2 separate regions of the Homo sapiens genome follow, and region 1 is linked to region 2. The links come from fine-mapping of genetic effects on plasma protein levels. A gene starts in region 2. The other region holds a variant in brackets. All regions are shown on one strand. Distances are between the middles of the regions.

Region 1 (2,926 bases), 250 kb after region 2:
ATGTATCAAGACGTGTGACAACTGGAATGAAATTGGTCCATGCAACAAGCCGTGCGTTGCTGGGTGCCACTGTCCAGCAAACTTGGTCCTTCACAAGGGAAGGTGCATCAAGCCAGTCCTTTGTCCCCAGCGGTGACCTTTGTTTCGATCCTTAAGACTCTGAAATCTGGTGACTTTGACACTGAAGCGGAAGAGCCAATGAAGGACTGCAGTATTTGTGTGCCCGATTCTGTAAACACACACACACAGAGTATATATGTGTATATATATATAGATATATTCAAAAACATTGCATCATTTATATGAACTATAGGGGGATTATTATATGTATATTTTTTGCTATAAGACATGTATTGTTTCTAGGATCCTAACCTGTAAGCCATTGAACATGTTGTATAAATACACCAGGTGTTTTTAATTTAATAAGGTGGCATGCAGATACATTGGATAGTGTTAACATCACATACATTTGTCATTTTTAAGGAAGTTTTCTAAGAGCCCTCAATTGCCTGCCTGTATTAATTTTAGTTTTGAGTCAGGATTTGTAATGGAGTGGGAAATGTGTTTCTCTGGAGAAGGGCACATTTATCTAGGGGCATTTCAGGTTTCCAAAGAAAGGAATGTATGCCTGGGAAAGACAGCAGGAGATTGGTGACCGGCCCTAATGGTGCATGAAAAGCGAGTGATAGGCTGTTAGAATGTATTAGGTCATGGGCTAACATTATTTCCAAAATTGATTGGCTGGTTGCCAAGAAATATATATTTGTCACTAGGGCATAACCGAAGAATCAAGTGATTTCTTGCCATCCTTGCGTAGTCCTCAAGTCTTCTAATCATCTATGTGTGTATGATGGATGTGACCATTTATATGTCATGTGTTGAAATTAAAGGGTGTCTGGATGCCATGTTAATTTTATTGAGCATGAGAAAGTATTTGAAGAAACTGTTGCACAACATATGATGAAATTTTGATTTCTCTGAATCTCAGAGTAATTTAAGATGGGCAAATCCAATGAGTTGATGTAACCCATCTACATTTTGTGGCTATTTCATGTATAAAATGAAAGGCTTTAGTTATTTCTAGAGGAGTCCCATCCAACACTATTTGGCGACTGTTAATATGTTATAATTATTAGACAGTGGAAAAGCCTTTATTGACTAATTGATTTAACCTCAGTCCAAAGAACAGTCTCTATACTTGCCCTCATTTACTGATAGGCTGCTACTAGTTACCATTTGATTGTCTTGACTTTCGTCTTCAGTTGAATTGGTGAAAACATCAACAAAAACAAAACCCACTGTGTCTTAAAATAAAATGTTCTGCATTGTAGTCAATAAAGGGCTTAAGATGT[A/G]AAACAATGCATTTTCTCTCTCAAGATGTCCTGTGTTATACTTTACAATTAGTTGTATCAACTTCAGATTCATTAAATTTTAACAGCTGTATTTAGTTATAATTTTTGTATCTTACAACAGTATATATAAAGACTATTATTAATAGACAAAAGCAAACCCACGTTTTTGACAAGCCAGCATATTGCCAATGCTCGTCAAAGACATTTATGTTTCTTTTACATTCATGACAGCTAAAGTATTAACTTGGAATTTTTTTTTTTTTTTTTGACTGGAAAATCCCTAGTTGTTTGAATTAACTGAATAAAGTGCAGGGCGTAATAGTGACTGGCTGGGGGCACTGGGCCTTTGTGTTTTTTTTCATTCCTGTGTTTGGATACTAATCACCCTCGTATCTGCAGCCTGAGGTAGTCAGGTCATTGTTTCAATGCTGCCCTTGGAAAGAAGACTTTGACTTAGGTGCTTTGGGATCTAAGTGTGGTTTGTGACTATCCCCATTATTTAAGCATTTGGGGGTCTCACTTTTGCTTATCTGTAACACAAAGAGGCCATGTAGTATAGTGAGCAGGGTTGAGAATCGGGAAAACTAGACCCCTGCCACTAACAGGCTAGGAGACTTTGGGCAGTAATGGGAGGCACTGAGGGTTTGCAAATACTTTCCTACTTGTAATCTCATTGATTCCCTGCTCTGCCCTGACAGGAGGGGTAGGGAAAATCAGTTGACGTTGCCTGGTGGTTCCTACCTTCTGTAAAACGAACAGATTCCTTAAGATTAGCTTTAAATCCCTTTTCAGTTCACTGTTGGTTCTCATCTTTGAAAGAGGGCAGCATAAGGGAAATGATGGAGAAGGGAGAATTGTGGATGGTTATTTATAGCTCATGATTCATCCAAGGACTGAGTTATTCTCCCCATGAGGCTAACCGGCCTCTTTCCCAACACTTAATCATGGCAGCCAGGATGGGTGAATGATGAAAGCTCTTCTGCATGAGCCGGTTTCATCATCTTGGGTGGGTTGATTACAAGTTTGTGTGGCATTCCTTTAGCTGGGGATTAGCTTAATCTCTGTACATTTTTCTCATTTCTAATTGAAGAAGAAAGGGAGGGCAGAGAGGACAGAAAATTACTTGGGTTTACTAATTCAAAGAGCCATCTCTGATGGGAGAGGGTGAGGAAATCAGCTGAATGGTTGGCCTGCATATTCTTTTTTAGGCCACAGGCTACAGCTGAGCAATGGCTTAGTCTAATGATTGGGCACAATGAGGATTTACCAAGTGCTTCAATGAGAGCAGTCCTGTTTCATTCACATGGGATGTTTTCAATTGGTTCTTCAACTAAGCTCTTGCAGAGTGAGATGACTTGAAATAAAAATGTTCTATGAATATTGAATTTGATGAGAAACAAGCACCCTCAATGAAGAACAAGCATAATTATGATTCTAATTGCCCATTGTTGGTACTCAGTAAAACTAAGTTCTTTCTTCTCTCCCTCTGTAAATAGGAATATTTGAGGGTCCTGACCTAAAATTTTTTAGCTGGGAAGAAAAGATATCTCTTTGGCATCGACAAGAGCAATTTT
Region 2 (2,902 bases):
TCCCTCAGGAAAAAAAAAAAAAAAGCCGCATCGGAGGAGCCTGGCCGCAGGACCCCTCCTCCCCGGGCGCCCCCACACCTTGGTCTCTCCCCCCGCCCTCCCTCACACCCCCCCGCCCCCCAGCTCTCGGGCGCCCGCCTCCCTCCTTCGCGGACGGTCTCCCGACACGCCGGCTGAGAGCCCTTTTCGACTGTGAGCTGCGGCAGCTGAGCAGAGGCGGCGGCGCGGGACCTGCAGTCGCCAGGGATTCCCTCCAGGTGACGATGCTCTGGTTCTCCGGCGTCGGGGCTCTGGCTGAGCGTTACTGCCGCCGCTCGCCTGGGATTACGTGCTGCGTCTTGCTGCTACTCAATTGCTCGGGGGTCCCCATGTCTCTGGCTTCCTCCTTCTTGACAGGTAGGGGAGGGGGCGGGAGGGACCGGCCCTCCGGGACGCCGGTTTGGTACCTGGGAAAGGTGGCGCTGGCTTGCCCCGGGGATGGGAGGGTGGGGAGCGCGCACCTTGGCGCTTGCCCTGCGCTGGTCGATGGGGATGAAGCGAAGCCCCGGGAGGGCTGGGAAGGCTGGTGAAGAGGTTGCGGGCTGAGAGGCTGTTGCCTTCAATGTAGTAATAATAGACATTCTTCTATTTGAATTTGAGAAATTATTTTATTTATTTTTAATGCTTTCCTCAACTTTTATTTTAATCTTTCCCTCTGTAGAACTCAGGAAAAAAATTTGTGCAGTTTTCCGCACATCTTCCTTTCTCATCTTTGGGGTTGCAATACATCCACTGTGCTAGGAGTGCTTTTTAAAGCACTGGCTCTCAAGACCTTGAATTTAAAGAAACTATCATTTAAAAAGGGCACTAATAGCCGGATATAATAATTATATGTTTTCAGGCAGGTGAAGACCTCAGCTGCTATTCTGAAGGACATACTTTACTGACACCTGGTGCAGAAAAGAAAATATGGAGTCAATTTCTAAGAGAAGGGAAAAGGGGATTGCGTTTCAAAAAGTGATTTAAACCTAAGACAATGCGAGACAGATTCATAGAAAGGCCTGTTTATTGACTCAGTTCTGAGTTTTGGTCAATTTAAAATCTGCCCCAATTTGAGGGTTTTTTTAAATTTTATTTTTTATTTTTTTCTTTGCGTATGGGGCTGTGTGCTTAGTTGAAATATCTTCATAAAGGAGGAGTGTTATTAAAAATCCAGTGAAATACTTGGAATTGTGCTTAGACCATCTGAGAACAGATAATTTATCCCTATATCATAGTCTTTTCTTTTTTGAACCTGTTTAAATAAAATTATTGAAAATGGAGTTGGGGGCAGAGGTTTTGCTTTGGTGAATTTAATAATTTAAACCACATTAAGAATTCTGAAGTTTGGGTAGAGGTTTCAAAAAGGATTAGTGTAAAAATTTTAAATGTTGAAATCATGCTGCTAAGCTAACTTTAAATGAAACATTTTTCCCCCCTGAATTTCAGGTTCTGTTGCAAAATGTGAAAATGAAGGTGAAGTCCTCCAGATTCCATTTATCACAGACAACCCTTGCATAATGTGTGTCTGCTTGGTAAGTGTGGAGATCAGGTAATATGAACTCAACTGCTCTCTCTGATAAGGTGAATCCATTAAATGTGATAATATAACCAGATCTTACAAATTGTCTTTATCATTACAAAATTGCACATAACTGTACATAGTTTGTGAGTTGAATCCAGTTAATTTCTGAGTTTTATGGACTTTGGCAATTTCCATTTCATCCAGCTGGAAATTCTTATCTTTGACATCATCCTTATAGACGTAAATTTCAGATAGGCTTTGTATGACGTCTCGGTGAAATGACAGTTTGTAATGTCTGTTTCCAGTAATGATTACTACAACCAAATTCTTGGGACAACAAAACTTTCTGCGTTGGTTCTGTCATTTAAGCTCAGTGGGAAAATGATGAGATAAGATTTAAGTATGAAGGTCAGGAATAAGGTATGCGACAAAGGGAAAGAGAGGTGACAGCCACAAAAAACAAACATAAGGACAAGATGTAATTCTGGATTTCTTTCTCGGGTTTCTTTGCCTGTTATACCCTAAACCCTCAAATACTGTCTTTATTTCTGATTTGGAAGCATGAGTCGGAAAGGACAATTCCATCCTTAATAGAGAATGACACTTGGCTGTCAGCTGCTTAGTTAACACTATCAGTGGTTAGAAGACTCAAAAAATAATTTGTTTCCATTTATTTTAGTTTAGTAGTTAATGATAAGTCTAATAAGTAACCACTTGGGGGAGATTAAGTAATGTGAATAAGAATTTCTGAGATGAAATATAGACCTACAAGGTAAACATTTTTGCTTAGGAGTGTTTTACATGCCAATCACTTTTGGCAAAATTTGGTTAGAAACTACACATTATAAAACCTTGTTGGAAATACATTAAGGCAGTCAAATGCAAAGCCCCAGAATGATAGAGGACTACTTGTTGCTAGATCAGCATGCTGTGTGGCGCTGGAGAAGGAATTCATTTCGGTTTAGGCAAAAGCCAAGCTATCTGAGTTTATACTACATAAATTTTTTCATGACAAGAGTTGAGGTCAATGTTTTGAAGTGATAAATGGGTGAAGGTAAATGGCTGTATCAAACAATTATCAGGTTCGGAAGACTAAGGAAATCAACAGAAACAAGTAAAAACGCACTGCGTTTGCTGACACAATAAATATTGCTGCCTAATAAAACAGAGCTGAGAGAGGGTGTATTATGATTGCATATTTATGGGTTGCTGTGTTCATTGATGATCTTTTAGTAAATAATTTGTTGAAAAGAAGCTTTCAGTTTAAATTTTGACTCAGTTGTAGATTTACAAATGCAGTGTGTGTGTATGTGTGTTTAATCTTCCTTTTTTATTTTTCTTATCTGTGTAATGTGAGTG

Alleles and levels. Positions count from the first base shown, and alleles are read on the strand shown. Strength reflects both the effect of a copy and how common the allele is.
For the plasma level of the protein whose gene starts at base 189 in region 2, allele G in region 1 goes with a lower level than allele A (moderate association).

The links. PIP is the chance, under the fine-mapping model, that this variant and not a neighbour inherited with it causes the effect. The UK Biobank Pharma Proteomics Project read protein levels with antibody pairs (Olink). The fine-mapping took linkage between variants from a reference panel, not from the people measured, so its PIPs are less certain.
Region 1: its variant is fine-mapped to the plasma level of the BMPER protein (UK Biobank, PIP above 0.99).

Annotation. Positions count from the first base shown.
Region 1 is chr7:34,153,138-34,156,063 of GRCh38, forward strand. BMPER (BMP binding endothelial regulator) reads left to right here. Exons shown (of 15, transcript NM_001365308.1): 15 at 1-2,926. The coding sequence ends at 136. Among named protein-coding and RNA genes, the nearest start is that of BMPER, 250 kb to the left of the region's middle. The variant A/G (reference allele first, on the strand shown) is at 1,353.
Region 2 is chr7:33,905,351-33,908,252 of GRCh38, forward strand. BMPER (BMP binding endothelial regulator) reads left to right here and starts at 189. Exons shown (of 15, transcript NM_001365308.1): 1 at 189-396; 2 at 1,468-1,553. The coding sequence starts at 264.